2 linked regions of the Homo sapiens genome follow. The protein of the gene in region 1 purifies or fractionates together with the protein of each later gene. This does not show direct contact. Each region holds a gene or a part of one and is shown in the gene's direction. Other genes may lie near its edges.

Region 1 (15,935 bases):
ACTGAATCCAAACATTTGGATAATGACATGGTGCCTCCTCAGCAGTGACTGTGTCTTCTTGTTCATCATAATAATGTTATTGATTAGCGGTACTGAACATGTAGGTATGCGTAGTAGTGAGATGCCGAGGTTAAGAGCTCAGCTCCAGGAATTGCATGGTTCTAGGTTATAATTCTTGCTCTGTCACTGTATTAGTCAGGGTTCTCCAGAGAAGGAGAACCTGTGTGTGTGTGTGTGTGTGTGTGTTGAAAGAAAGAGATGTGTTTTAACGAATTGGTTCACACAGTTGTTGGAGTGGCAAGTCCAAATTTTGAAAGGCAGGCAGGCTGGAGAGCCGGGGAAGTTGATGTTGCAGCTCAAGTCCAAAGGCAGCCTGGAGGCAGAATTTCCTGTTCCACAGTGGGGCCACGGTAGGCACTCAGTCTTTTTTCTTAAGGCCTTCAGTTGTTGGATGAGGGCCACTCACATTATGGAGGGTAATCTGCTTTACTCAAAGTCTTCTGATTTAAATGTTAATTGCATCTAAAAAATATCTTCTTAGTGGCCGGGCACAGTGGCTCATGCCTGTAATCCCAGCACTTTGGGAGGCCAAGGTGGGTGGATCACCTGAGGTCAGGAATTCAAGACCAGCCCAGCCAACATGGTGAAACCCCATCTCTACTAAAAATACCAAAAAAAACTAGCTGGGCGCCTGTAATCCCAGCTACTCGGGGGGCTGAGGCAGGAGAATCGCTTGAACCCGGGAGGCAGAAGTTGCAGTGAGCTGAGATCGCGCCATTGCACTCCAGCCTGGGGAACAAAAGCGAGACTTCATCTCAAAAAAAAAAAAAAAAAAAAAAAAAAAAAAAAAAAACACCTTCTTAGCACATTGTTTGGTCAAACAACTGGGCACCGTGGCCTAATCAAGTTGATATGTAAGACCAACATAGCCGCTGCCAGCAAGTTACTAACACTTCTGAGCCTTGGAGCCTCGGCTTCCTTGCCTGTAAAGTGGGGGTAAGAAGACCATCTTGAAAGGTTGTTTTGAGGTTTTACGTGAGATGAAATGGGTGTCCAATGGAGTGCCTTTAGCAGGACACCTGCTTACCCCCACCTCTACCCAGGACATCATGATGCGGGGGAAGTGGTGGAACCTTCAGAACCCAGCCCCTAGTATGAGAAGAATTCTGCCATCACCTTTCTTTCAGCAGAGAGGGAAGCAGTCCCCTTCCGTGACAGTCACATGCGTGAGTGATGGCTCCTTCCAATATCCTGCACTTCTTACTGCCCCTTACCTGGCGTTGCTCCACTCTGTCTCATGTTCTAGTTTTCTTATCTCTTTCTCTTTTTTTTTCTATTTTATTTTTTTCCTGTAGGCACAAGTGAGTTACAGTAGGTTAAGTTACACCTTACCTTTCCTTGTTTTTCTTGTTTATTTATTTGTTTATTTATTTTTTTGAGACAAGGTCTTGTTCTGTCACCACAGGCTGGAGTACAGTGGTGCAATCACAGCTCACTGCAACCTGGACCTCCCAGGCTCAAGTCATCTTCCCACATTCAGGCAATCCTCCCACCTCAGCCTCCCAAGTATCTGGGACTACAGGCATGTGCCACCACACCCAGCTAGTTTTTAAAATTTTTTATAGAGATAGAGACAGGGTCTCACTATGTTGCCCAGGCTGGTCTCAAACTCCTGGGCTCAAGTGATCCTCCCGCCTCAGCCTCCCAAAGTGTTGGGATCACAGGTGTGAGCCACTGCACCTGGCCTTTTGTTTTTTTTAAGTAGAGACAGTCTTGCTTTATCACCCAGGCTGGTATACGATGGCACAATCACAGCTCTCCTAGGCTCAAGGATTTTCCTGCCTCAGCCTCCTCAGTAGCTGGCACTATAGGCAGGTGCCACGACACCCAACTATTTTTTTTTTTTTACTTTTTATAGAGACAGGGTCTCACTATGTTGCTCCTGGCCTCAGGTAATCCTCCTGCCTTGGCCTCCCAAAGTACTGCGATTACTGGCGTGAGCCACCACACTCAGCCGAGTGCAATGGCGCGATCTCAGCTCACTGCAGCCTCCGCCCCCCTGCCCCCGGGTTCAAGTGATTCTCCTTCCTTAGCCTCCCGAGTAGCTGGGACTACAGGCATGTGCCACCACGCCCAGCTAATTTTTGTATTTTTAGTAGAGATGGGGTTTCACCATGTTGGCCAGGATGGTTTCAATCTCTTGACCTCGTGATCCGCCCGCGTCGGCCTCCCAAAGTGCTGGGATTACAGGCGTGAGCCACCACACCCAGCCCTGCTGTTACCTCTTTCTTACCTCAGCTATTTGAGGATAGAGTCTAGGTCCTGTCCTGCATATAGAAGGTGCTTATCATGTGTCTTTTGAGTGAACACAGAGGGTGACATTGTCACGTGCAGTGCCAACAGAAACCAAATGACTAGACACCTGCTGACCTTCCATGGCCACAGGGAGGATGAGAAAGGCACCTCCAGGAGGTGTGAATAATCTGAGGGTATTGGCCACTGTGGACAAGACTCGGTGGTGGAAGTGAGCTCAGAGATCCAAAGGGAACGTGAGTAGAGACATGCAGAGTCTCGCAGAGGAAGCAGACGTGCAGGCCACAAAGACAAAATTACAAGAAATGCCCCAACACGAGCATATGCTCACGGACTGCACAGATTCAAGGAGGAAGTGCCAGAAACCCTGCCTGCCCCAGCATCTGCACAGGCATCCACAAAGGGTTTCTGTCATGTTATCTCTTTTTCTTCCAACATCCGGTGCTGTGAGTTTTATTGTCCCTGTTATAAATGCCTCCAGGAGTGGCAGGTCCTGCCCAGCCCCATCAGCCAGTTGGTGCTGCAGTCAGGACACCCAGGCAGCCTGAGGACTGCCAGATGTGCAGAGAGCTATCGCGTGCCTGCTGCGTGCCCAGCACCTCACACAGCTCTCAGTGTCTGACCACGCTGGTGCCCTGGTGGACAAAGTTCCTGCCCTTGTGGCCCTTTTGTCTAGTGGGTGGCTTCCAACAATGAACACACACAGGATATGTCAGGCGGTGACAAAGGCTACTGAGAAGACCAAAGCGGCTTCACCCTCCCAGAGCACAGCTTTTCCCTCCCAGGCCCGAGAGATGTAGGGAGCCCACTGTCCCAGTCTGGGTCAAGAGGAACAGTTACAACACCTTGGAATGACTGAAGTTGGGAGCTAAGGTGCCAGGACAAGACAGGCCATTTTAGGAACCAGAGACTTGTGTTACCCCTAAACCTCACCAGCCAGGAGGGGAGCAGCCCACTGGGTCCTCTCTGCCACAGTTGGGTGCTTCTTGTGCTCCCCCTCCTGTGGTCAGGATAGGGGAAGCAGGCTTTCCTGCTGCCACTCCTAGGACCCAAGGGGAAGCTGGGGGAGTGGGGAGACCATGTGGGAAGGATGGAGTGCACTTTGATTGGTAGCAGGTGGATAGGTACTCCCATGGTGGGGAAATCAAAGTTGCTTGGCCTGTGTAGTAGACAGGTATTACCACAGGCCTGGAAAACATTAGCCTGGGTTTATCTCTGTGGCTTCGGTCCCCCAACATCCCCTTCTACTCAAAATGGCTGATTCTCTGGTTTGGAGGTTTGGCACCTGCTTTTGGGGAGGTTGCTCAGTCATTAGAGAAGAGTGCAGAGGTTGGACGGTCATCATGGCAGAGGTAGGACAGCTGGTATGTGGGGCCATGAAACCAGCTTTGGGCTAGGAGTCAGGAAGCTGAGACTCAGTTCAGGTCCCCTTTCCAAGATGAAGAGATCATTTCCGAGTGTCCAAAGGGCACTGGGAAGAGAATCCTAGCAGTTCTTATGAAATCATCTGACAGCAGATATATCCTGAAGTCATAGCCTTAGCAAACTGCCTTTCTCGCCAACACACTCAACACCCCGTGGTTCAAACATCTATACGTCTGATAGAAAAACTTGGAGAAATTCAGTGTGTTGCTTAATCAATATGACTGATACCTAAGCTGTTCTACTCAAGAAGTTTTCATGGGAATGAACTTGAGCTTCTTGAAGAGATTGTTTACAGCATCCCTGGAGTCTATGCAAGAATAGAACTTCCTGTGGGGGATGGTGGGGAGGCTAGCTCTGCAGAGGTCTACAGTCCTGCAGTTTCTGCAAAACACGTTGCACACATCTCCATATGGGCCACACGGTGGCAACCTCTGAACCAGGAGAGCTGCTTCCTAAGGGCTAAGACCCTCTGTCTGCTTTCTCTCTCTTGCTTTCCTCCCAAAACACAGCCATCCTCCTCCCCACTGCTACCCCATGGTGAGTTCAGCCCAGGAAGCCTCTGACCCAGCCCTGATGGTAATAGCTGCTGTGTACTGGACATCTTCTGTATGTTAGGCTCTGGGAGAAATGCTGTGGAGACTTTTTGCCCATCCTCCCAGAGAAGCTGTCAGTACCCCCTGTTCTAGGTGAAGAAACTGGTCCTCAGAAAGGTTGACTCCCTGAGGCCACACAGCTGTTAAGTGGCTGAGGCGAGGGCTGTGGGGCTGTTCCCACGCCCTGGCTTCCAGGCCTGGCAGCATGTGGAGCTGCCCCTCCATCGTGTGTCCGCAGACCTCTCCCGGAGCTCCTCGCCACCCTCACTGCTGGACCAACTGCAGATGGGCTGTGACGGGGCCTCATGCGGCAGCCTCAACATGGAGTGCCGGGTGTGCGGGGACAAGGCATCGGGCTTCCACTACGGTGTTCATGCATGTGAGGGGTGCAAGGTACGGACTGGGGGGAGCGGTGGCTGGCCACTGAGGCTGTGGTCACATGGTGAATTGACCCTCCACAAAGCTTTCCTTGCCTTGGGGTGGGGCCCTGACTGTACCTATTGCAGAATTCCTGCCCAGGAGGCAGCCAGGCCCTTGTGCTCCAGACCTCAGCTCTGGGCACTGCAGGAGAAGAGGGGGTTCCCTTGTCAAGCCTACCCTGCTGGGCACCTGTGTTGACCCAGCTCTGTGGGTGATTGTGTCCCCCTGGGGACCAGGCAGCTAGGGCAGAATGAGGGTCTTGGGCTGAGCCATCGTCTTACCTGAGGTCTGGGTTTCTTGTTTCTCAAGGCTCAAAGCGGGCTCTGAGAAAAAAGGACAGACATTTGTTTTTCCAGTGATATTTGTGGGTCCTTCCTAACTTCACACCCATCAAAATCTCACAGATTATTTTATTGAATCACCACCTCACAAATACACAGAACCAGATACATTTATGAAGAAATCAAGTTAGCCGTGAGACAATCTTATGTTACCAAACTAACAAAGAAGCTTTTTTTTTTTTTTTTTTTTTTTTTGAGATGGAATCTCGATCTGTCGCCCAGGCTGGAGTGCAGTGGCGTGATCTCAGTTAACTGCAACCTCCACCTCCCGGGTTCAGGAGATTCTCCTGCCTGAGCCTCCAGAGTAGCTGGGATTACAGGTACATGCCACCATGCCTGGCTAATTTTTGTATTTTTAGTAGAGATGGGGTTTCACCACATTGGCCAGGCTGGTCTCGAACTCCTGACCTCAGGTGATCCACCTGCCTTGGCCTCCCAAAGTGCTAGGATTACAGGTGTGAACCACTGTGCCTGACCCAATTTTTGTAGTTTTAATAGGGACGGGGTTTCACCATGTTGGCTAGGCTGGTCTTGAACTCCTGACCTCAGGTGATCCACCCACCTCGGCCTCCCAAAGTGCTGGGATTACAGGCGTGAGCCACTGTGTCCAGCCCCAACAAAGAAGCTTTAGGACTTCTTTAGACATTTAAAATAGTTGTGTTTTTTTTTTGTTTTGTTTTGTTTTATTTTGTTTTGTTTTGTTTTGAGATGGAGTTTCACTCTTGTTGTCCAGGCTGGAGTGTAATGGCGCGATCTTGGCTGACTGCAACCTCCACCTCCCGGGTTCAAGCGATTCCCCTGCCTCAGCCTCCTGAGTAGCTGGGATTACAGGGGTGTGCCACTACACCCAGCTAATTTTTCTGTATTTTTAGTAGAGACGGGGTTTCACCATGTTGGCCAGGCTGGTCTCAAACTCCTGACCTCAGGTGATCCGCCCACCTCGGCCTCTCAAAGTGCTGGGATTACAGGCGTGAGCCACTGTGCCTGAACTAAAATAGTTTTAATTAAAGTTTTAGAATTACTTTCCTTCTCCATCTCCCCTCCAAAAAAATTTCTTCTCGTTACTTCCAAATGTCAGGAGTGTTTACACCTTATACATAATCGGGCCCTTTGGCACAGCCTCCCTCCCACCTCCTGGTGGCCTTTCCTCACCTGTTCTTGGTGCTTCAGGGCTTCTTCCGTCGTACGATCCGCATGAAGCTGGAGTACGAGAAGTGTGAGCGCAGCTGCAAGATTCAGAAGAAGAACCGCAACAAGTGCCAGTACTGCCGCTTCCAGAAGTGCCTGGCACTGGGCATGTCACACAACGGTGAGAGCTGACCAGGGCAACTCACGGGCTGCTGGCTCCACACAGCCTGAAACCAAGGTCCAGGGAGCCCTTGGGGCAGCCTAGAGGGGGCACCTGTAGAGCAGTGCCTGGCGCACAGTAAGCACCATGGCTGTTGGCTGTTGGCTTTGCTGATCTGGACCTTGGATCTTAGAGCCTAAGACCTGCCACTTCCTCAGACTGCCAGCATCTACCATGGGTCCCAGGCGTGGGGTAGTGTTTACCTCCCTATACCTGAGGTTTACGCATTCTGGCCCAGAAGGGAACTGATAATTGATACCAGCTTGAACAATTTGGGGAACACCAGTCCCAGAAACTCAAGCCTGTCTCAGATGACCTGACACAGCATGAAAGCTACTGCCAAGGCCAGGTGGCCCTTCTTGGTTATAGAAGGCAGGCAGTAACCAGTAAGTAACCACATTTGTCAACTGCCAGGAGCCAGGCAGAAGTTTCTTGGAGGTCACCCACTCCCAGGAGACAGAGCCTTCTCTGCCCTGTGCTCCAGGCCTCCTGCAGAGCCTTGTCTTCGGACCCCAGGGTAGGATATTGCAAAGCCCACCTGTCCCCTCAGTACCTCTCTGAGTAAGACCCCTAGAGGACAGGGGAGAGCCTCTTGTGATCTCTACAGGCAGGTTAGCTGCTTGGCCAGCTTTTACCCAGGGATGCCCTAACTGCCTTGCATCTTAGAGGGTAGCAGTACCTGAGCCCTCCATTTGCGGCTCTCCTGGGTAATGGGGTCTGGCAGGTCTGGGTTTGACTCCTTTCTTAGGAAATCTCGGAACTGACTGAATCCCTCTCCTTACGCTAACTCCAGGAGAAGTCGAATTCGTATCCTACTCAATTACTAATGACAACAATTTTTGAGTGCTTACTATGTGAGGATTCTTATTTAATTGATCTAATAACTCAGTAAGTTTTAAAAAGTATTAGCCTCATTTTTCTGATTAAAAAAGAAAAGTGGCCAGGTGCAGTGGCTCACACCTGTAATCCCATCACTTTGGGAGGCCAAGGTAGGAGGATTGCTTGAGTCCAGGAGTTTAAGACCAGCCTGAGCAACATAGTGAGACCTCATCTCTACAAAAAAAAAAAAAAAAAAAAAAAAAATTTAGCCAGGCTTGGTGGCGTGCACCTGTAGTCCCAGCTACTCAGAAGGCTGAGGCGGGAGGATCACTTTAGCCCAGGAGGTCAAGGCTGCAGTGAGCCATGATTGTGCCACTGTACTCCAGCCTGGATGAGAGTGAGACCCTGTCTCAAAACAAAAAAAGAAAAAGGCTGGGCATGGTGGCACATGCCTATAATCCTAGCACTTTGGGAGGCCAAGGCGAGTGGATCACCTGAGGTCAGCAGTTCAAGACCAGCCTGGCCAAGATGGTGAAACTCTGTCTCTACTAAAAAAAAAATACAAAAATTAGCCAGGCATGGTGGTGGGCGCCTATAATCCCAGCTACTCGGGAGGCTGAGACAGAGAATTGCTTGAACCCGGGAGGCAGAGGTTGCAGTGAGCCGAGATCGTGCCACTGCACTCCAGCCTGGGAGACAGAGCGAGACTCTGTCTCAAAAAAAAAAAAAGAAAAGAAAAAGAAAAGTGAAGGAGTCTGCCCCAAGTCACAAAGCTAGTAAACTGCTGAGCTGGAACTCAAGCCCAGGCCTTTGTCACCAAAGTCTGTCTTACCCCAGCTAGCGTAGCTCAGTCACTCAGTAAGTTAGAGTCCTTGTGTGCTGGGCACTGTGAACAAAACAGACAAAATCACTGCTCTTGCAAAGATACACCAAAAAAAAAAAAAAATCACATCTTGTGGAGCTTGCGATCTGGAGGGGCCACCCCATCATTCCTACCTTGCTGACTCTAGAGCTTCTGGGGGCCTTAGGCTCCAAAAGGATTTGGCCCATGCACCTGTAAAGGGATGGGGATGTCAGAGGTGCTGGGGCCTGCCTGGGCTCCTTGCTGACTGCCCCCTTCCCTGTGCAGCTATCCGTTTTGGTCGGATGCCGGAGGCTGAGAAGAGGAAGCTGGTGGCAGGGCTGACTGCAAACGAGGGGAGCCAGTACAACCCACAGGTGGCCGACCTGAAGGCCTTCTCCAAGCACATCTACAATGCCTACCTGAAAAACTTCAACATGACCAAAAAGAAGGCCCGCAGCATCCTCACCGGCAAAGCCAGCCACACGGCGGTGAGTGTTGCTGCTGCTTGGCCTGGCAGCATCCTGGGCTCTGGGTCCCACTGCCGCCTGCCTGACTCCGGGAGAGCCAGGCCTTCTCCCTCCCTCAACTTCATGGTGCAGGCAAGGGACATGGGGAGCACAGGGTGGGGGTCTCCCGAGGCCTGATCTCTAACGGGGCCTGGTTTTCAGCCCTTTGTGATCCACGACATCGAGACATTGTGGCAGGCAGAGAAGGGGCTGGTGTGGAAGCAGTTGGTGAATGGCCTGCCTCCCTACAAGGAGATCAGCGTGCACGTCTTCTACCGCTGCCAGTGCACCACAGTGGAGACCGTGCGGGAGCTCACTGAGTTCGCCAAGAGCATCCCCAGCTTCAGCAGCCTCTTCCTCAACGACCAGGTTACCCTTCTCAAGTATGGCGTGCACGAGGCCATCTTCGCCATGCTGGCCTCTATCGTCAACAAGGACGGGCTGCTGGTAGCCAACGGCAGTGGCTTTGTCACCCGTGAGTTCCTGCGCAGCCTCCGCAAACCCTTCAGTGATATCATTGAGCCTAAGTTTGAATTTGCTGTCAAGTTCAACGCCCTGGAACTTGATGACAGTGACCTGGCCCTATTCATTGCGGCCATCATTCTGTGTGGAGGTGAGTGAGAGTGGGGCAGGTGGGCTGGCCTGGCACACCCAGTCGTCCTGGGGGTTGGCCCTCACTGCAGGGCACTGTGCCTGAGCTCTGACAGTGTGGGGAAGTGTCCCTGTGATCTTGGCAGTGGAACATGCAAGGCACTGACTGAGCATGCAGGATCAGCTCCATCTCATTATGTACGTAGATAGAGGTGGAGACAGGAAAAAGACTAAGCCAGACGTGGTGGCTCACACCTGTAATCCCAGCACTTTGGCAGGCCGAGGCGGGTGGATCACTTGAGGTCAGGAGTTCGAAACCAGCCTGGCCAACATGGTGAAACCCCGTCTCTACTAAAAATACAAAAAATTAGCCAGATGTGGTGGCACGCGCCTGTAATCCCAGCTACTTGGGAGGCTGAGCCAGGAGAATCGCTTGAACCCGAGAGGTGGAGGTTGCAGTGAGCCAAAATCCCACCACTGCACTCCAGCCTGGGTGACAGAGTGAGACCCTGTCTCAAAAAAAAGGAAAAGGACTAACAGGCAGTATGCTGTCATGTTAATGTGGGGTGGAAAAATTGTCTGCATTTTTTCTGCATTTTTAAAATTCCAACACAATAAATACAATAATAACTATGCTAACTAACAGTGGTCTAGAGCTTACTTCATGCCAGGCACTGTTCTTTTCATCGATGATGACTCACTTGATCCTCACAACAACCCTGTGCAGGAAGAATGTTTTGTGTCTCCATTTTACACATCAGAGAGGCTGAATGACCTGCCTATAGCCTCACAGGCAGACACAGGATTTGAATTAAGCATTGAGTCTCTTAACCACAATACTACGTTGCCTAATCGGGGGGGAGGTGGGGACAAATTGGCAAAAAACAAAAGAAGTGGATTAAGACCAGGGGTAGGGAGATTAGAACACCCAGTGGAGCATTGCTGATGGGACAGGGCTTGGTCTGTCACGGCCAAGGAGGCCTGCCGTCCCCTGGGCCAAGTCACCTCTTGGGGTGGAAGTAGGGGAGCTCCACTGCCTTTCTGAGCTCCCTGGCGTGCCCTGTGTCCCCACAGACCGGCCAGGCCTCATGAACGTTCCACGGGTGGAGGCTATCCAGGACACCATCCTGCGTGCCCTCGAATTCCACCTGCAGGCCAACCACCCTGATGCCCAGTACCTCTTCCCCAAGCTGCTGCAGAAGATGGCTGACCTGCGGCAACTGGTCACCGAGCACGCCCAGATGATGCAGCGGATCAAGAAGACCGAAACCGAGACCTCGCTGCACCCTCTGCTCCAGGAGATCTACAAGGACATGTACTAACGGCGGCACCCAGGCCTCCCTGCAGACTCCAATGGGGCCAGCACTGGAGGGGCCCACCCACATGACTTTTCCATTGACCAGCCCTTGAGCACCCGGCCTGGAGCAGCAGAGTCCCACGATCGCCCTCAGACACATGACACCCACGGCCTCTGGCTCCCTGTGCCCTCTCTCCCGCTTCCTCCAGCCAGCTCTCTTCCTGTCTTTGTTGTCTCCCTCTTTCTCAGTTCCTCTTTCTTTTCTAATTCCTGTTGCTCTGTTTCTTCCTTTCTGTAGGTTTCTCTCTTCCCTTCTCCCTTGCCCTCCCTTTCTCTCTCCACCCCCCACGTCTGTCCTCCTTTCTTATTCTGTGAGATGTTTTGTATTATTTCACCAGCAGCATAGAACAGGACCTCTGCTTTTGCACACCTTTTCCCCAGGAGCAGAAGAGAGTGGGGCCTGCCCTCTGCCCCATCATTGCACCTGCAGGCTTAGGTCCTCACTTCTGTCTCCTGTCTTCAGAGCAAAAGACTTGAGCCATCCAAAGAAACACTAAGCTCTCTGGGCCTGGGTTCCAGGGAAGGCTAAGCATGGCCTGGACTGACTGCAGCCCCCTATAGTCATGGGGTCCCTGCTGCAAAGGACAGTGGGCAGGAGGCCCCAGGCTGAGAGCCAGATGCCTCCCCAAGACTGTCATTGCCCCTCCGATGCTGAGGCCACCCACTGACCCAACTGATCCTGCTCCAGCAGCACACCTCAGCCCCACTGACACCCAGTGTCCTTCCATCTTCACACTGGTTTGCCAGGCCAATGTTGCTGATGGCCCCCTGCACTGGCCGCTGGACGGCACTCTCCCAGCTTGGAAGTAGGCAGGGTTCCCTCCAGGTGGGCCCCCACCTCACTGAAGAGGAGCAAGTCTCAAGAGAAGGAGGGGGGATTGGTGGTTGGAGGAAGCAGCACACCCAATTCTGCCCCTAGGACTCGGGGTCTGAGTCCTGGGGTCAGGCCAGGGAGAGCTCGGGGCAGGCCTTCCGCCAGCACTCCCACTGCCCCCCTGCCCAGTAGCAGCCGCCCACATTGTGTCAGCATCCAGGGCCAGGGCCTGGCCTCACATCCCCCTGCTCCTTTCTCTAGCTGGCTCCACGGGAGTTCAGGCCCCACTCCCCCTGAAGCTGCCCCTCCAGCACACACACATAAGCACTGAAATCACTTTACCTGCAGGCTCCATGCACCTCCCTTCCCTCCCTGAGGCAGGTGAGAACCCAGAGAGAGGGGCCTGCAGGTGAGCAGGCAGGGCTGGGCCAGGTCTCCGGGGAGGCAGGGGTCCTGCAGGTCCTGGTGGGTCAGCCCAGCACCTGCTCCCAGTGGGAGCTTCCCGGGATAAACTGAGCCTGTTCATTCTGATGTCCATTTGTCCCAATAGCTCTACTGCCCTCCCCTTCCCCTTTACTCAGCCCAGCTGGCCACCTAGAAGTCTCCCTGCACAGCCTCTAGTGTCCGGGGACCTTGTGGGACCAGTCCCACACCGCTGGTCCCTGCCCTCCCCTGCTCCCAGGTTGAGGTGCGCTCACCTCAGAGCAGGGCCAAAGCACAGCTGGGCATGCCATGTCTGAGCGGCGCAGAGCCCTCCAGGCCTGCAGGGGCAAGGGGCTGGCTGGAGTCTCAGAGCACAGAGGTAGGAGAACTGGGGTTCAAGCCCAGGCTTCCTGGGTCCTGCCTGGTCCTCCCTCCCAAGGAGCCATTCTGTGTGTGACTCTGGGTGGAAGTGCCCAGCCCCTGCCCCTACGGGCGCTGCAGCCTCCCTTCCATGCCCCAGGATCACTCTCTGCTGGCAGGATTCTTCCCGCTCCCCACCTACCCAGCTGATGGGGGTTGGGGTGCTTCCTTTCAGGCCAAGGCTATGAAGGGACAGCTGCTGGGACCCACCTCCCCCTCCCCGGCCACATGCCGCGTCCCTGCCCCGACCCGGGTCTGGTGCTGAGGATACAGCTCTTCTCAGTGTCTGAACAATCTCCAAAATTGAAATGTATATTTTTGCTAGGAGCCCCAGCTTCCTGTGTTTTTAATATAAATAGTGTACACAGACTGACGAAACTTTAAATAAATGGGAATTAAATATTTAAGAGCTGACTGGAAGCTGACTCAGTTACTTGCATGTTTTTCCTGGGGCTTACAGGGCTCCACGCCTCCTCCACATCCAGTACTGGAGGGCAAAGGAGGCTTTGGGCTCCAAAACCCTCCCCTGCCTCCACCTCGCTTTGCTCACCGCTTGTCAGTCAGGTGGACGACTATGCCATTTCCGCCCTGCAGAGAGAATTTGGGGTGTGAGGGGACAAAGGACTTGTGGTGCCCTGGCCTCACCTGGTGGAGCACTTGGGGTCTGGGGAAGGGGAAGGCCCCTGGAGGAGGCGGATGCAGGACTCAATAGATCAAAGCCAGTTTTTCATCACCACAAGAGATCACGGCTTTCCTCTCCTTTGCTGCCACCCAGCTCTCTCCTGTCTTTCCTGAGTGCCATCTCCCCAGCGGTCCAGTCGAGCCCAGCCCCCGGCAGCCATGGGTTTGTTTGCAGTGTGAGGCCAGGTCAGGGTGTGTAACAGAGTATGTGTTTAGTCAGGAAAAAACTACAGCTAAATATTTCCAAATGGGGAATGTACTGCAGGGAGTTGTTACAAAAGTATTGGAAGTACTGAAAGATCAATAGGGGGAAATAGGAGTCATCCAGAGATGACTAACTGCAGGAAGCCATTCTCACCTCCAGGGCTGAATGGGAAAATGGTATTCAGGGCCCACCGTTGCTACAACACACACTGACACTGCGGCGACCCAGGAGCCTGAAGTCACCAGTTGATTTGACTGTAGAACCAGACTGCTGGTGCCTGAGTTCACGCAGATGGTACATATGGGGCCACCAGAGTGCCCGAGGCCACCACCACTGCTGCCCCTGGAACCTCACTGCTTGAGTGCTGTAGCCCCATAACTCATAGCCTGGTCTCAGCTGCTTCTGCCAGAAGTGCTGTCAGAGTTTGGGGTTGGGGAAGCAAAGGATTCTTCCTTCTGCCTATCTTCCAGTCTGTTGCTTTTACCTCCCATTGGGGGAAAAAAATGCATGGTAGTCTAGGAAATGGAGTTTGTAGACTTCCAGCCCTTGCAGCATAGAGGAGCATGTGGAAGGGTGGGAACTGAACCAAGCGTCTGCAGGCAAACAACTAGCACAGCGTACAGGCACCAGCCCCAGTGTGAGGGATCCCAGAGGCCCACAGCTAAGGGATGGTCACTACAGCACTTGCCTCCTTGTTTTCTTTCTTTGCTGGTCATCTTGGCAGAGCAATCTGAATTGTCAGGTCCCATATGGTTCATCTCAGTCCAGAGAGTGACAGCCCCAGGGGAACAGGAGGAAAAGAGGAGAAGGAAGAAAAAAAGGGGTGCTTGGAACCAGGGCATCTCTGAAATTGGTAGCCTTTTTTATAATGGAATCCTCTGGTTTACTTGGTGTTATAAGTAAAATGTTTATTCAGAAACAGAATGCTTGTTCCTTGGAACTATAAGGAAAAATTAGCATTTAGACAAAAAGTTTTCTCAGCAAGGCAATTTTACTTTCTGCAGGAAGGGTGTTCCTCACAGATGGAACAATGGCGAGAGCACACACGAACAAAGGAGGGAAGCAATTTTTATCCTTTATGCAGCTTGTCCCTGCTACTGTGTCCTGTCTCCATTGGCTGAAGCCAGACCACACAATCTAAGCTAAACCTGACTGGCTAATAACTTAAAACTTTCCTAAATAGGTGAAGGCAAGGGAGAACAAAGGAAAAGAGGAAGTTGCTTGCAAAAGGACTTAGAAAAGTAATAACCAAATATCTGGTTAAAGTACAAGGACATAGAATGTACTAATTCCCTTATATCTAACAGCTACACAGGATAGGGCTTAACAAAGAGTTATTAGCACAAAACAAGGTGGCTTGAAGGAAGTTAGTCTTTAAAAGAAACTATTATTTCTAACACTTATGATTTATTTTTTAACAAGAAGGGAAACTTTGAAGAGGAACCTTTTTTACTTTCTACACTTGGTTTATTTTACTCACCTCCCTATTCTTTCCCACACTATCAAATGGGGAAAAAATAGTCAAAGACTGTGTGTGTCTCAGTTGTTAAAGGCCAGTCCTCTTCCCAGCACTGAAGAACCCAGTATACTAAATAACCAGTTCTCACTCAGTTCAGAGAGTCGAAGCTGTCTCAACCACTTTGCCTGGCTTCTGGTGCTGCAAAGAGCATCATATGACTCTGGCCCCCGTTGTTACTACCCTAATTGCTATTCCTTATTAAGCAGCTATTCATGCATTATACATACATCACCTCTAATCTTATAAGGTAAACATTATCACCTGTCATTTTACAGAGGAGGAAGCGCAATGAGAGATTAAGGGGTGTGCCTGTGGTCACAGCTAGGAAGAGGCATGGCCGGTATTCCATCCGCAGCCTTAGGATCTCTGCTTTTCAGCCAGGATCAAAACTTTGGGGAAAACAGTTGGTCACCTGGTCTCTTTTTAATAATGCTCAGGACAAATGAATCAAGCATTTAAACTAAAAAAAGAAGAAAGCAAACTTAGGAGACTTAGAAGATTCTCTTGGCAATAATTCTATAAACCTAAAAGTATTCTGAAATTAGAAGTTTATTAGAGAGATAGCCGGGCACGGTGGCTCACGCCTGTAATCCCAGCACTTTGGGAGGCCAAGGCGGGTGGATCATGAGGTCAGGGGATCGAGACCATCCTGGCTAACACGGTGAAACCCCATCTCCACTAAAAATACAAAAAATTAGCCAGGCATGGTGGTGGGCGCCTGTAATCCCAGCTATTCGGGAGGCTGAGGCAGGAGAATAGAGTGAACCCAGGAGGCGGAGCTTGCAGTGAGCCGAGATCGCACCACCGCACTCCAGCCTGGGCGACAGAGCGAGACTCCGTCTCAAAAAATAAAAATAAAATAAAAAATACATTAAAAAAAAAAAAAGAAATCAAGGTTGGGCGTGGTGGCTCACACCTGTAATCCCAGCACTTTGGGAGGGTGAGGCGGGTGGATCACCTGAGATCAGAAGTTTGAGGCCAGCCTGGCGAAACCCTGTCTCTACTAAAAACACAAAAAATTAGCCAGACGCAGTGGCACATGCCTGTGGTCCCAGCTGCTCCAGAGGCTGACACAGGAGAATCTCTTGAACCTGGGAGATGGAGGTTGCGGTAAGCTGAGATCGAGCCACTGCACTCCAGCGTGGGCGACAGAGCAAGACTTCGACTCAAAAAAAAAATCAAAACATAAGAAAGGAATAATTTGCTTTGTTTGTTTTTTTGTTTTGAGATGTAGTCTCGCTCTGTAGCCCAGGCTGGAGTGCAATGGCATGATCTCGGCTCACTACAAACTCTGCCTCCCAGGTTCAAGCAATTCT
Region 2 (16,432 bases), on another chromosome or scaffold:
AAATATCTGATTTAAGGAGGTCAAGGCTGCAGTGAGCTGTATTCATGCCCCTGCACTCCAGCCTGGGTGACAGAGTGAGACCCCGTCTTCAAAATAAAAGGAAGAAAATATCTGGTTTAAATCAGGATTTAAATTCTGGCCTCTAAGCTAAAGGTTATACCTTGAACCTTAAGCCAAGACAAACACCAGATGAAACCCATCTATCAACACCACTGATTATTCAGAACCAATAGCTGAATCTCACATACCCTCTTCTTCCAGTCAGAGAAAGAAGCCTTAGGAATTTCAAACATAAACATCTTATGTTTCCCTTTTTAATTCTTCAAGGGACTATTTACCTCACTAAGGATTCAACCCTTCACATGAGCAAAAATTTAGCAAATGTTAAATTTAGTAAAGCCCAATGGTGATAACGATGACTCTGGGTACCACCGAGGAAACATTATACATCCATGGTAACAAGGGCTTAATTAATAAATGGTGTCAGGATAAATAGCTTTTCACCTAAAAATTAGATCACTAGTTTGTTTTTTTAAGAGATGGGGGTCTCACTATGCTGCCCAGGCTAGTCTCAAACTCCAGGGCTCAAGCGATCCTCCTGCCTCAGACTACTGAGTAGTTGGGACTACAGGCATATGCCACCATGCCCAGCTTAAATCCCTAGTTTTATGCCCTTCACCAATGGCTTAAATTCCAGATGGACAAAAGATCTAAAGATAAAAAACAAAACTTAGGATTCTTAGAAGCAATGTAGGAAATATGTTTATAATGCTTGAGTGAAAAGGGCTTCTTATTTATTTATGTATTTTTTGAGGCGGAGTTTCGCTCTTACTGCCCAAGCTGGAGTGCAATGGCGTGATCTCGGCTCACTGCAACCTCTGCCTCTTGGGTTCAAGCGATTCTCCGGCCTCAGCCTCCCGAGTAGCTTGGATTACAGGCATGTGCCACCACGTCTGGCTAATTTAGAATTTTTAGTAGAGATGGGGTCTCTCCCTGTTGGTCAGGCTGGTCTTCAACTCCTGACCTCAGGTGATCTGCCCGCCTCGGCCTCCCAAAGTGCTGAGATTACAGGCATGAGCCACCAAGCCCAGCCGAAGAACGGCTTCTTAAGCAGGGCATAAAATATACAAATTAGGGAGGAAAAGACAACAATTTGATCATGTCAAAATGTAAAACTGTACAACAAAAAAACCCACAAAGTTAAAAGACAAACCAAAGACTGGGAGAAAATATCTAATGTATATAATCAACAATAATTAGTATCTAGAATGTATAAAGAACTCCTATCAATAAACTAATAGAACCAGGCACAGTGGCTGGCACCTGTAGTCCCAACTACGTGGGAAGCTGAGATGGGAAGATCACCTGAGCCCAGGAGTTCAAGGTTGTAATGAGCTATGATCATGTCACTACACTCCAGCCTGGGCAACAGAATGAGACCCCATCTCTAAAAAACAAAATTAAAGAATAAACCAATAAACAGGAAAATGAACATTAGATATAAATAGAAAATTCGATAAAGAAACTGAATGGCCAGTAAAGATATGAAAAGATGCTCAACCACAACAGAAATCAGAAAAATTCACATTATAAATGCAGTATTATTTATACCTAACAAACTGTCAAAAATGTACAAGTCTAACAATACCAAGTGTTAATGAAAAGACAGAGAAATGGTAACTACTTAACACTACCAGCAAAGATTTAAGTTGGGAACAATACTCTGGAAAGTAATTTGGTAACATCTAATACAGTTAAAAATAAGTACAGCCGGCCAATCCCAGCACTCTGGGAGGCTGAGGCAGGCGGATCACCAGGTCAGGAGTTTGAGAACAGCCTGGCCAACATAGTGAAACCTTGTCTCTACCAAAAATACAAAAATTAGCCAGGCATGGTGGCGCGTGCCTGTAGTCCCAGCTACTCGAGAGGCTGAGGCAGGAGAACTGCTTGAACCCAGGAGGCGGAGGTTGCGGTGAGCCAAGATCGCGCCACTGCACTCCAGCCCGGGCAACAGAGCGAGACTCCGTCTCAAAAAAAAAAAAAAAAAAAAAAAAAAGTACAGCCTACAACTTAGTATTCCTCTGCTAAGGAGACATGTACAAGAATGTTCTCTGCAGTATCATTTGTTCTTATAAAAAACTGGAAAGAGCACAATTGTCTACCTCCAGGAAAATGGATAAATTGTGGCTATTTATTTAAAGCAACACTCCACAATAGTAAAAATGAAAGAATTTGATATGTATTAAAATAGGTAGAACTACAAAATAACCAAATAAAAAAACAGCTGCGTGTTACATTCAGGATACCATTTACGTAAACACAATACAAAAAACTAACTCTACACATGTAGTCAAGAATAAAAATGTAAACTTGAAGAATACATGCCAATTTCAGCATAGTGGTTGCATCTAGGGAGCAAATAAAGGGAATAAAACTGAGAACAGAAAGACTTCAACTTTATATAACCATATTTTTGTTACAAATTAAGCTAAAATAATATTAATATTTGCCAAATCATAGAGTAGATAAATGTTAATTACATTATTCTCTGCACTTTTCTATAGTTTTAAAATCCAGTTTAATAAAGGCTAATAAAGATTTAAAAAACCCATCACTTCTAAATAGTAGAAGAAATAAAGGGGAAAAAAAACTTGGTGTGTATACCTAGAAGTCAACAGAAATATGAATGGAAGGGATGCATATTATAATAACTTCAGGATAATGATCATCCCTGGGAATGGTATAGGTAAAAAACAGACACTAATTGTGCCAGTAATGCTTTATATCATTAAAAAATGTGTCCGGAGCTGAAAAATGTAAATTCGGGGTGATGAGTAGTGGAATGTTTTATTTATTTCTGTATTTTTCTTACCCTGAAGTATTTCATAATATAAAAGCAGAAAATTGAAAATAAAAAATAAAAATAAGCTCTGTGTTCAGAAACACTGGGAAATGTTTTCTGTATTCTGATTTGCCTTCTTTACCAAGATAAATAAAGAAGCAGTTAAAGAACGTATTACCTTTGTGGGAAGACTGTATTTTCCATCTGGAAGAGGAAAGCTCTGAATTTCTCCACATGCAGCACAAAGAAAAGCCATCTTGGTGCAAAGAGGCTTTATATTACTGACACGAACCACTGTCCCTCTTAGAGCAATGTATTTTCCATAGTAATTTGCTCTGACATTCTTGAGCTGTGTCAAAGGCTCATAGTTGTACACCCTAAAGACAAAACAGGAAGTAATGAACAGAAAATTGATGTTTTTTATATTTTCACAAGTTCCTTTTAGGAGCAACTATGGAATTCTCAAATCAAATCATCCCTTCGATATATCAGAAATATCACAAGAATTAAACCATTCTTGTTGTGTTTTGTTTTCTTGAGATGGAGTCTCGCTCTGTTGCCAGGCTGGAGTGCAGGGGTGCCATCTTGGCTCACTGCAACCACTGCCTCCCGGGTTCAAGTGATTCTCCTGCCTCAGTCTCCCGAGTAGCTGGGACTACAGGTGTGTGCCACCACACCCAGCTAATTTTTGTATTTTTAGTAGAGACAGGGTTTCACCATGTTGGCCAGGATGGTCTCGATCGCTTGACCTCGTGATCCGCCTGCCTCGGACTCCCAGTGCTGGGATTACAGGCATGAGCCACCGTGCCCAGCCAAACCATTCTTAACAAGAAACAACACTAAATCTTCCTTTTTCTTCTTGTCTCACAGGCTGTTCTCAAGGAAAAAAGAAAAAAGAAATTTAAGGAAAAAAATAATGCCAAAAGGAAAATCTACAGATTCAAAAACCTTTGGGTTTCTAAGTTCTTTTTAAAGAACTGCTAGGAAATTTTCTTCTATAAATTCTGGAAAAGAAAAACAAAATGCTGATGATTACCTTATAATGAATTCTTCTAATGAATTTAAAATCTTAAAGATGAATTCAAGAAAAACAAAATAATTTCATTATTCCCTTGTATCTAACAAAAACCTAATAATTTAACAAAGAACACTTAGTGTATTACAGACTGAGTATATCCCTTATCCAAAATGCCTGGGACCAGAAGTATTTTGGAATTTTTGGACTTCCAAATATTTGCAATATTACTAGTTGAGTATCTCTAATTCAAAAATCTGAAGTGCTCCAATGAACATTTCCTTTCAGTGTCGTGTCAGGGCTCAAAGTTTTGAATTTTGGAGCATTTCAGATTTCAGATTTTCAGATTAGGGATACTCAACCCATACATGGATTATTAAACTTACACAGCAGGGTCTTGATAAGTTCACATCCAAAACCAATGTTTACAAAAATCTGCAGGTTAGGAAATCAACATTTTCTTCCTTATTTAGGAAGTATCTGTCATGATGTCTTTGAATAATTTTCAATGAGTTTATTTCAGTGTGATGATCAATGAGATGGCAAGGAACTCATGTCCTTTTTACTGATTTCCTCATTTTTATAAAATGAGCGTTTTCATTCTTAAATGGCCTTCAATGTCCCATTCTAAGTAATACTTTAATACATCAAATTCCTCACCTTGCATGAATATGTGGCACATTTACCATTGTTTCTCCATCATTAGACAATCCTTCCTGGGCTTGTAACTCAGCTGCATGCCTTTCAAGGTCCTTAGTTAACACCTAAACAGGACAGACATTTACTCTGAAGTTGGAAAACAAAACATCCTCTTTATACAGAACTCTATTTTTATAGAGAATATAAAGTTTATGGACAGAAACAGAATAAAAACAGAAAACTTTAACAGCCCTTTAAATATCTAATATTTAATTATGACTACTTACTTTATAGTGGATGTTTTACATTGGATTTTGCTGTCCCTGTGCTGAAAAACTCCAGCATCCCAGTCTGCTACTTTCTGTCCCAACTAAACCTAACATTAAAAGCCCTTACATTAGTCCCCAAAACCATCACCTCTTGATACTAATTAAAAAAAAAAAAATGCATTCCTATTTCTCTATATTCACTGACCAATCAAGACACAGAAAATAAAAATGACCTTTAAAATACCTAATACTCACTCCCTTGGCATTTAACATTAAATAATATAAACACGCTGGGCGCAGTGGCTCACACCTGTTATCCCAGCACTTTGGGAGGCCAAAGTGGGTGGATCCCCTGAGGTCAGGAGTTTGAGACCAGCCCGACCAACATGGTGAAACCCCATCTCTACTAAAAATACAAAAATTAGCCAAGTGTGGCAGTGCATGCCTATAATCCCAGCTACTTGGGAGGCTGAGGCTGCAATGAGGCAAGATCACACCATTGCACTCCAGCCTGGGCAACAAGAGCAAAACTCCATTTCAAAATAAATAAATAAATAAACAACAAACAAACATTTAATACCACTTGTACACAGCAGTTTGCTGGCAACCTAAGAGGCAAAATAAGATGCATATATACAGCTGTAATTGTCATAAGGACCATAAAGATGTACAGACAAAATACCATGCAAGTTTCGAAAAGTGGTCATGAGAAAGGTTTTACAGACAGACAACTGAGCTAGGCCCAAATAATCTGTCCATGTGAAGGGAAGGGGATTCTATGTTGAATGGACAGCACAGGCAAGAGGTAGAAGAATGCCCCTCTGAATGCCCCAGCACTTTGTGTATGCCTGTCCTGAGATTTGCTATTCATTACCTTGAAGCATGTATCTGTTTGCTAGCCTAAAAAATGTTTTTGGCCGGGCAAGGTGGCTCATGCCTGTAATCCTAGCACTTTAGGAAGCCAAGGCAGGCGGATCACAAGATCAAGAGATCAAGACCATCCTGGCCAACATCGTGAAACCCCGTCTCTACTAAAACTCCAAAACTTAGCTGGGCATGGTGGTGCACCCAGCCACTCGGGAGGCTGAGGCAAGAGAATCACTTGAACCCGGGAGGCAGAGGTTGCAGTGAGCGGAGATCATGACACTGCACTCCAGCCTGGCAACAAAGTGAAACTCCATCTCAAAAAAATAAATAAAAAATAAATTTAAAAAATTTAAAAAGTTAAAAATGTTTTCATATATGTTGTATTACCTGACCCTGAAAAAAAACTCAGGCAAGCACAGTACAAACTGTTATTTACATTTGATATACAGGGACACTCAGTGGTTTGCTTCATGCCACAGAACCTAAATCTAAGGTTGCTCTTTTTTGCTCTAAGTTCATAACCGATAACACCATGATTCCTTGTTTTATCTTCCCTATGAGATTGTATAACTTCTTGAAAGCAAAGTTTAATTTCTGCACAATCTTTAGCAAGATTAAGCAAATCCAAATAAGTTGGAGGTAAATATTTCATTTAGATAAGCTGTTGTATATAGAATGAATGGTATCTTTCAGAACGGAACTGCAACCTCTCAGTTCTAGCCAACATCTTTTCGTAAAAGCTAAGTATCTCTTATAGAAAGTACAGTCACTGTAAAATCTTCCTTTAAACTTAGACAAGGTGTGCATGTGTGTGCAAACATTAAAAAAGTTTAGACAAAAGTATGCATAAGACAAATAGTTACCTGATGTATTGCCAAACCCATGCAAGCCAAGGTTTTCTCAGGTGCATCTCTTAGTTCAGTTGCTATATCTGGTATCAAGTTAGTTACTTCACCACCTTCTGTCAGTTCTTTAAAATCTACCAAAATACTTCCCTTTCTTTCTATTTCATCCTATAAAATATAAAAGTATGAAAACAATAATTGCTTTTCTGTAGTCAATTACCATTAACTGAGCATTCTATTATAGACTTTGAGAAAGCATACAATGTTTATATGTGATAATGGTAAGTATGACATAAGTATAAGCTTTGTGCCAAGCATGGTTCTGATATTTTAAATATATTAATGTATTACTGCCTCTTAACAATCCTTTGAGGTAGGTATTTATACCTCTATCTCCAAATGAAAGAAAACTGAGGCACAGAGAAGTAATTAATCAAAGTCCATACTGCAGGTAAGTGGCAGAACTGAGGTCTGAACCAAGGAAGTCTGACTCCAGTGCCTACGATCATAATCACAAGTACCTCGAATACATTGGTAAGATGGCACATGACTGGTAGCTTTGCTGTAGAGGAATCTTACCTTGTCATACAAATCAATATGCCTTGTGAAAAATTTTTCAAATGCTTGAATCTTCTCAATCAAAGGAGAGCTATCGCTGTAAACTAATCCAACAAATATGGCATTAGCACAAATAATCACACAGGTACATGCACATTTTTCATGAGACAAAAGCAGCACTATATACATGGTAGATGATTTTTTTCTAATTGCTTTGTATTTTGATTACATTCATATAAGAACTAGTATAGAATGTAAACTTAAGATTCTAAAACAAATTTAGGTTTGCATAATGTGAAATGCAGACAGAAACTCTCTCTCTCTAAAAGCCCCACTATCTGGGAAACTTTGTTTTGCATCTTTGACACCTAATAGGACATGTTAGTTCAGATAATTTAGACAATAAGCTTAAACTAAAAATTATAATAAAGCCAAAGCCAGACACATAAACTAAGCTCTTACTCTGACAGAGCTGAAGACAATCACAATCACAGTCTTTCCTGAGATCAGGAGACAGACCAACACTTGACCCTGGTGGCAAAACTGAAAAGCCTTTTTTTTTTTAACACTCTAAAGTTCTACATTTTCAAATATGTCTCTCACAGAAGAACAGTACAATAAAGTAGTTTGGAAGCACAGATGGTGAAGGCTAAGGCACCTCTTGAACTCCATCTTTAGGACTGTCCAAAGATCACTTATAGTGTTCTGAGCTATCTGCTAGGGGAGCAATGGGAGTGCTGGTGGCTAATACATCCTAAAGGAACAAAAGATCATTCATGAAACAGATTCTATTGATGGAAAAAAACGAACAGATTTCCAATAAAGAAAACATTTGTAAAGTACTCTATTCATTCACAAAATGACTACTGCATGCCTGGTATGGGGCAGGGAGGGTCCTGGACCTCAAACGTCTAGTTTTCCTAAAAAAAAAAAGTATGCGGCTGGGTGCGGTGGCTCACGTCTGGAATCCTAGCACTTTGGGAGGCCGAGGCGGGCGGATAACGAGGTCAGGAGATCAAGACCATCCTAGCTAACACGGTGAAACCCCGTCTCTACTAAAAACAGAAAAAATTAGCCGGGCGTGGTGGCGGGTGCCTGTAGTCCCAGCTACTCGGGAGGCTGAGGCAGGAGAATGGCGTGAACCTGGGAGGCAGAGCTTGCAGTGAGCCAAGATCGCGCCACTGCACTTCAGCCTGGGCAACAGAGCAAGACTCCATCTCAAAAAAAAATAAAAAGTATGCACACACACACACACACACACACACACACACACCCCTCATGAGACATAAGAAACAAATGGGTATTTTAACAGCACAAAAAAGACAGTTCCCTGCACCTATACAGACTGATGTAGGTTAATTGGTATTCCTAATTATCAAAGGGAGATTCCTTACCTGTGTTTCTACACAAAGCTGTATTTGTTATTGTCCCTTGATTTCAGGCCCACTGTTCTACTTCCTGCTCTGCGATGCTATAATTCAGATCTGTACCCTACATGTCTCAGATTCTCTTTAAATTCTGCCAATTGAAGGCACTTTAGAGACGGGAAGGTGGCAGGAAGAGAAAGGAATTTATTCTTGTTTCCAACTCTTTTCAGCATCTCTGCAGCTGCAGAAGATAACGATAGTGCTAGCCTCCAGTTCCAAGCACCACTGAGTCATGCCCCCTCAGTTACCAGTGGCAACCAGCTTCATTTGCCTTAGTGGTCTAAGCACAGCTCTGTAAGGTAGCCTTCAGAAGTCCAAGCATAGCTTTGTAGGGTGCCCCTCAAAAGTCAAAATAACAGCTATGCTGTGACCTCTCCAACCTTTGAATTCCCACATTCTGGTAACCTCAGAACTTCTTTTAGTCTCTTAGCCATAAGGATGGTTGCTGCTTCCTGAATTACTACTTTCTGGGGAGTTACCTCAATATTTCCTTTCTGCTCTTTCAGTCTTCCATTTTTGTATCCAATTTCTTGTATTAAGTCCCCTTTTTGAAATACCTAGTATGGTTTCTGCTTTCCTGACTGATATAAAGTCTAAAATGCTTTTGAAACATAAACATCATTTAATTGTTTGGGTGAACTAAGATTAAAGCAGGTATATGTTAGTAAATGAATTACAGTAATACAAGATGTAGCATCCAAAGACAAGTTAAGAAAATATGATTTATGGTGCTTTTTTGTACTTTTTAAACCCTACCTTCAGAGAAATAAAGCTTCCAGCCTTTATATGGTATGAATCGATCCAATGTTGACTGCATTGACTGTGGGGTCTTTGTTGAAAGCAAAAACTGTGGGGTTTGTTCTGAAAAAAATAAAATACTAGGTTAGTAGAAACAGAGTGAACATTTTTCCAATATGCTTCTCTTTCCAAATGAGACTCTCATTAATAGAGTATCCAAATTAGGGGTTTTAGTAAAAATCTGGGACATCAATGTTCAAATACTTACTAAGGAGTAGCATGAAATAAAAGACAAACTGAAGTATGAGATAAACCGCCTTGTATGATAGACGTGAATTGCTTCCTTAAGTGAAAAAAATTGAACAATCATTGACCTCACCTACCAGAAGTACGTTTTCCTGTGGTTTTACTCAGATCAGGTCTGTGTTCTCTTTCTCTCCATTTTCCTGAGAAGTTCCCACCACCTCTTCCCCTTTTCCAGCTTTGAAATCTTCCTCGTCCAAATCCTCTGCCTCTATACTCTCCATTCATCTCTCCTAAAAGATAGATATTAAAAAGGTCTTCACCAAAACTGTAAGGAAAATAGTGCTCTTAAAAATGTATTAATAAAAAGGGAAAAATTAATGTATTCTAGGTTCAAGAGTAGCAAACAGGCTTGCAAAGTTGTACAGCTATGATACAAGACCCAAATATTCTGCAGTTAAGTTTCTAATCTCTATCGCTTTTTAAGGTATACCATAATAGTTTAATAACTATTAAATATGGTTTACGTATACTAGACGCTCACAGGTTAAAAATAAGGACAGGTACTGTACCTGTTTACAAGTCCCCATTACAGAAATGAAAATAGGACAGGTAATTAACTCTATGAAAACTTATTTGCAGTATTTGAGACTTCTTATTATAGGGCAGGACAGGATGAACATAATTCTGGCCTGTGAGACACTAGGGATACATCATCATAGCTTCTTACATACAGTCAATCCTGCAGTGTCACATCCATTTTTTGTGCAGTTTTTCTGTAAATCCAAAACTGTTCTTATAAAATACACGTCTACTTAAAAATGATTCATATCCTAAGTATACAAGTAAATAAAGATATACCTGTACGCTGCAGTGCAATTCATTATCAAATACTCTACCCAAATCCTTACTTAAAAGGGGTTTAGTTAATAAAACAAGATAGTAACTAGAAAGTTCACGATTTAACGGCATGACAGGGCTCCAATAATTAGGCATTACACATTATGAAACTGATGCTCAAAGAAATTAAGCAAACCGATCAAGATCAAAGTTGTTTGTCGACAGTACAGAGATAAAACTTTCAGCCTCCCAAGCTGAGGCGCTCCTTCAACAACGCTGCGTGCCATACCCTTCTCAAACGAGACAATATGCTGAGAACAGTAACAAATTCAAAAAAACGTTAAGAAGTAGGACTGGAGAAAGAGTAAAAAGAAACAGTTGGGTACCTGTGCTTCTTCAAATACTACTTTATTTACATCTCCTAAGGCTAAAGTTCTTACTTGCTTGGGACAGAGGTCCCAAAGCTCTCCTAGTTCACAACTGGGCCGGCTCCAGGATACGCGCAGATCTGTCCGGCCGGATTCTCCCTCCCTCCCTCCCGTAGAGAAGCACCACGGGGCTAAGAGTCTCCGGGATCTTAGCTCCTCAGGCGACTCCTGCCAAGTCCGCAGTTCTCTTCAGCCGCAGCTTTCCTGTCGTCCCCGCGCGGTGCTGAACCCCATCTGTCTCAACGGCTCGGGAAACTCAGTTTCCCCACCGCAGCTTCCAGAAGGTGTCTGTAGCGCACAGCGCCGCAAAAATGCCTCAAGCGAAAATCAGGTCTTCCCCTAAATTCTTTTTTGGCGCTTCAGTGATCCAACTTCCGCTCAAAGAAGCGGCAAGACGAGAGGGGCGGGGCGGAGTGCAGCCAATCAAGGAGTTTGGCCAGACGGAAGCCGAGAGGCTTCCGGAAGCGGTCTTGAGGTCTGGGCCGGAAAGCGGAAGCGGCGTGCAACACGTGGGGGCGGTGCCGGTCGGAGGGCTCCTAGTGCGCCAGGTTGTGGGAAGTGAGGCTGGCGGTGGCGACAACCGAGGAGGAGGGGCGGGACGCCGTGGAGCACGGCGACCGGCTGAGCGTCATGGAGGGCTCAGGGGAGCAGCCGGGCCCACAACCACAGCATCCCGGAGACCACCGCATCCGCGACGGCGACTTCGTGGTGCTGAAACGTGAAGATGTGTTTAAAGCAGTACAAGTCCAGCGGAGAAAGTAAGTCAGATCGCTGATTTTAGGGGTCTCCCGCCCCCACCTTGTAGATACCCCCTCCCTCCAGGTTTCTCCACAGAATTCTTCCGCCAGGGTGCCATTCTTGGCTCTCTCGGTCCCCATTCCCCGCCCTCGTTGTCTCCTCGGGTCTTTCTGTCACAGAAGGCTTTTCCACCAGGATCCCGTCTTCGAACCTCATAATCTCCCTTAACCCTCCTGTTTTTCCCGGAGCCCCCTCCATGATTTCATATCTGGCCGTCCACCTTCAGCATCCTTTTCAGTCTTTCCACAGAGTTCCTTCCCCAGAATTCCATTCTTGGCCCTAGGGTGCCAATGCCTCCCTCTCCACACCCTAATCACCTGTCCTGAAGTTCTTTCCCTAGGACCTTGGGATCTTCACTGTCTTTCCAGAGACACCCCCTCCTTTCTTCACTTTAGGATCTCATCCTTGTCTCCAGAGTCTCCTTCAGGTTCCCCCTTTTTTTCCACCATAGATCCTCCTTCTTCCCTAATCCCCCAGTCAGGATCTATCCCACAAAAAATGAAACGTCTCCTACCTAGTCTGGCTTTCTATCCTCTTCTCTACCCAAGCAGGATACACAGAATAGATGAAGGAGACAATTCACCACAGAGTGTGGAATCACTTTGAGTTTCCCTCGTTTTACTCACCAAAGGATTCAACGCTGGGAAAATTGCTAAAAAGCAATTTGCTCAAGGCCTCAGAACTCCAAATTAGGTTTGGTTTGTGCACCTGCTGGCTAGTATCGCTCTGTTTTATAGAAGTAAAGAAGTGGGATTTTGATAACTTTCTGGAAGGGCTGGTGAGGTTGTTAAGTCCTAAGAGCTTATTAATGGTGAAAATTTATTGGGATATTTGGATTAATTTATCTGAGAAATACAACCACAGTGTTTTTGTTTTTGAGACGGAGTCTTGCTTTGTCACCCAGGCTTTAGGGCAGTAGTGCAATCTCGGCTCATTGCAGCCTCTGCCTCCGAGGTTCAAGCGATTCTCCTGCCTCAGCCTCCCTAGTGGCTGGGACTCTGGCACCATCACACTCGGCTAATCTTTTTTTTTTTTTTTTGTATTTTTAGTAGAGACGGGGTTTCACCATGTTGGCCAGGCTGATCTCGAACTCCTGACCTCAGGTGATCCACCCGCCTCGGCCTCCCAAAGTGCTGGGATTACAGGTGTGAGCCACCGCACCTGGCCACAGTTTCTTTTGAGCTAGGTTATTGTATTACTTTTGACAGAGATAAGTTGAATGCAATGTCAGGAGAACAGCTTTCTGCAGACTGGGAAGTATGAGATTTGGAATTTCTGATAAGTACTTACTTCAGATGAATTCTTTTACTCCTGGTTTAAGCAAACTGTTGACTGGTATTTAAGGTGAAGCAAGCATCATAAAATAGTCAAGAAACAAGTCTCCAGAGCACTAAGCTGGTGATAACCAAGCTTTTTGCACAAGCACTAATTTAGTAAAGATAAAAAGTTTCTTTTATGAGGGGTATGTTTCTTTTAGTCCGGAAATGTAATACCTGCACCAACCTTTAACCATTTTTAAATTCTTCTTTTTTTTCTTTTTTAAACTAATTAATTTTTTTTGCAGAGACAGAGTTTCACTATGTTGTCTAGGCTAGTCTCCAATTCCTGGGCTCAAGTAATTCCGGCCACCTCAGCCTCCCAAAGTGCTGGGATTACAGGCATGAACAGTAGTTGACCTTCCCCTTTTGTGGTGCCAAAAGGGTTGGAGACCACTGCCCTAAACATTTATTTGGAAATACTTTTCAACAGGCCCTCTTCTTCGCAGAAGTCATAGTGGCAGTTTCCATTTTATTTAGGAAATGACTCTCTCAGCTCAGCTGCATCCCAGGTCAGACTCCCTCATCACCCTTGGGGCTACACTCATCTGATTGGGCAAAAAACAGTCCAGGCTCTCTGAGAAGTAGACTCTGCAAATCCTACTCCTTCCCAGTAAAGATGTGGCCTCCTTATCCCTCTAACGGGGCCCCACATTCCCGACTGGGGCAGTGACCTGTCAAACCAGCCAGTTTTAAGTGACACGCATCATCCCCTCTGCATATCACATAGGCTCTCAGAGAGGTAAACCCACCCATCTCAGATCCAGTGTTTTTGTTTGGTTTGTCTGTTTGTTTGTTTTGTGAGACGGGATCTCACTCGGTCCCCCAGGCTAGAGTGTAGTGGCGTGAACTTGGCTCACTGCAACCACTGCCTCTTGGGCTCAAGCAATCTTCCACCTCAGCCTCCTCAGTAACTAATTTGTGTACTTTTTGTAGAGAAACTCCTGAATTCAAGTGACCCTCCTGCTTCAGCCTCCCAAGTAGCTGGGACTACAGGTGTGTGCCACTACACCTGGCTAATTTTTTTATTTTTTGTAGAGACGGAGTTTTTCCCCGTCAGCCAGGCTGGTCTCAAACTCCTGGACTCAAGTGACCCACCTGGCCTCCCACAGTTCTGGGATTACAAGTGTGACCCACCACACCTGGCCAGATCCAGTGTTTCAAAGCACCTAGGTGATTAAAGGATGAGGATAGGGGGTGCACATCTGGGCTGAGCTGAATTGCAACATCTGAGGAGGTTTACATTAGCAAATATTTTGAGTGTCTGTTACATTCTGTTGTATGTAAGTATCTAGGGACCCAGCAAATAACAAGAATTGGCCATATCTGAATCACTTACGATCATACAGGATTTCCCTCAGATGGTTTGAGTAAGCTTTAATGAAGATGTGACTCAAAAGTGTGGCCGATTTAGGGAACCAATAAAGGTGACACACCCAGAGACCAGCAATGGTGGTAAGCCTCTGACACGGGAGCGTGGGTGATGTGGCAGTATATTCTGTCGTAATCAGCTTCCTGGTGGCACAGAGAAAGGAAGAGAAGGAGTGGGATGGGGCACAATCAGAATTAACCACCACATGATTCCCAGAATTCAGTGTTCTGTGCACATGGGCCATGTCCTGAAGCTAGGTGGGCTTTCTACCGTCCTTAGGTCTTTGCTGGAGTAGACCGTGTGGTATAGTGGAAAGAATGAGGCTTGGGGTCAGACACAGATTTGAATTTGAATCCCAGCTCCAACAACACCTTGCAACTGTGAATCTTGGACAAGATACTTCTCCCTGGGCCTCGGATTGCTCTTCTGGAAAGAGCTATGTCCCAGGATTACCGTGAGAATTAAATCAAAAAGTGTGAATCACACCTCGCACACACTGCCTAGCCCCTGGTTGGCACTCAGCAGATGTTAGTTTTCTTTTGAGAAGAAAGCATTGTGTTCCTGTGGGATTTCTCTTTTAAATTGCAATAAGATAAAAAATCTATGTCATAGGAAACCTCAAGTTGCCTGGTCCTCAGTAGAGCATTGTCAGTGTTAGGCTCCATTTCCAAGTGTGTAGATTGTCAGTGTTTATTTGCAAGTATAATTTGCTTTTATTAGATAATTTTCAAATAAAATGGCCGATCAGACCAAGCCCAAGAAATTTGTTAAATCCTTGTTACTTCGATGAGTCTTTGCTTCCCCTTTCCAAAATTCAGTGTTCTTGTGGCTTATTCATTAATTTTACGTCTCTATCCCAACCAGGTTCTCTCTAGTTCCTTTGTTGCTTTATGTTCAGAGATAATGCTGCTGATCATCCATTGTGGAGACCACTTTTGAAATAAACTGTAGTGAACATGTCTTTTCTGTACTGGATAGAAAAGATATTCAGTTAATTGATTACTTTTTTTCCCTAGAAAAGTAACTTTCGAAAAACAGTGGTTCTACCTGGATAACGTCATTGGCCATAGTTATGGAACTGCATTTGAAGTGACCAGTGGAGGAAGTCTACAGCCCAAGAAGAAGAGGGAAGAGCCTACTGCAGGTGCACATTTTGGATGCGTGAAATAGATGCTCTCCAACTGACTAGTCAGAAACATCTCAGCCTCCACCTAATTCCCAAGTGCTAGGCCATGCTATCCCAAAAGAAATCTTAACTCATAATCTAAGAACTGCAGCTCAGTGGAGTGAAGCAAGTACTGCCTTTGGCCATGAGATAACCTGGATTCTGGCTCCAGCCCACCATTAAATGGTTCTCTGTTCTTGGGCCAGGCATTTAATCCTATGAGTCGTTGCTGCGTCATTGCAAGAACATAATGTAAAGTTCTTTCAGTGCCCAGAAGTTATGTAACAGCTGTGAGGTGGTTAGCATATGGTGTAGAGGTTAAGAGGTCTGGTTTTGGATCCAGCTAAGTTCAATTTCTACCTTCATCACTTGCCTTGTACCGTTGGGCAACTTATTTGATTTCTGTGAGTCTTATATCCTTATATATGTAAAATAGGGTCATAAACACATTTAATGCCTAGGTTGTATTGAGTGTTCTATGATATGACTCATAGGAAGTTCTGAATAGTGTCTTGCTTTTAGTAAGGGCCCATAATTTTAGCTATTACTATTATTATTTCTTAACAACCTCTTGTCCAAAAGCTGTTATTGTTAATTAAAATTATATTTATTAAAATGAACATTGAGAGTATCTTATTAATTAAAACACAAGTAATTATTTGAAGTTAAATACTGTTAAAGTTTTGAGTCAAACCTGTTATTTAGATACATTTAAATTAATATCCATATTTTTACTAAGCACCAAATATATGCCAGGTATAATTTGGCGCTGCAATTATAGCAGTTCATAAGATAGACTGTCGTATAAAATGTGCTTACCAGTTGGAACACCAAAAATAATCAAGTAGACAAGCAAACAGCATGATTTCTGATGGTGAAGTGACACATGCTATGAAGATAATAAAGCAGGGGCGTGTACTAATTTGGTAAAGCAAGAGAATGAGCTCAGCCTCAAGTGATAGAAAGGATCCAGCCACTCAGACATCTGTCGTAGAACCTTCCAGGCAGAGGAAGCAGCAGGTGCCAAAAGCCTGCTGTGGGACCTTGCTGGGTGTGTTCAAGGAACAGAA

The links.
Region 2: the proteins of PPARD (region 1) and TRMT6 purify together in Homo sapiens (affinity purification with mass spectrometry; 3 studies listed by BioGRID and IntAct, with this or other methods). This does not show direct contact.

Annotation. Positions count from the first base shown.
Region 1 is NC_000006.12:35,415,558-35,431,492, forward strand, and holds the end of PPARD (peroxisome proliferator-activated receptor delta), read left to right. Parts: intron 1-4,569; coding exon 4,570-4,724; intron 4,725-6,262; coding exon 6,263-6,401; intron 6,402-8,388; coding exon 8,389-8,591; intron 8,592-8,771; coding exon 8,772-9,222; coding exon of another isoform or gene 9,223-9,230; exon of another isoform or gene 9,231-9,843; intron 9,844-10,274; coding exon 10,275-10,522; 3' UTR 10,523-12,621; downstream 12,622-15,935. UniProt on the Homo sapiens protein: Ligand-activated transcription factor key mediator of energy metabolism in adipose tissues. Receptor that binds peroxisome proliferators such as hypolipidemic drugs and fatty acids.
Region 2 is NC_000020.11:5,945,315-5,961,746, reverse strand, and holds the start of TRMT6 (tRNA (adenine(58)-N(1))-methyltransferase non-catalytic subunit TRM6), read left to right. Parts: upstream 1-11,213; 5' UTR 11,214-11,341; coding exon 11,342-11,469; intron 11,470-15,213; coding exon 15,214-15,341; intron 15,342-16,432. Other genes in the region: DNA helicase MCM8, read right to left, coding at 3,021-3,219, 4,518-4,621, 6,496-6,645, 7,057-7,139, 9,219-9,323, 9,584-9,731. UniProt on the Homo sapiens protein: Substrate-binding subunit of tRNA (adenine-N(1)-)-methyltransferase, which catalyzes the formation of N(1)-methyladenine at position 58 (m1A58) in initiator methionyl-tRNA.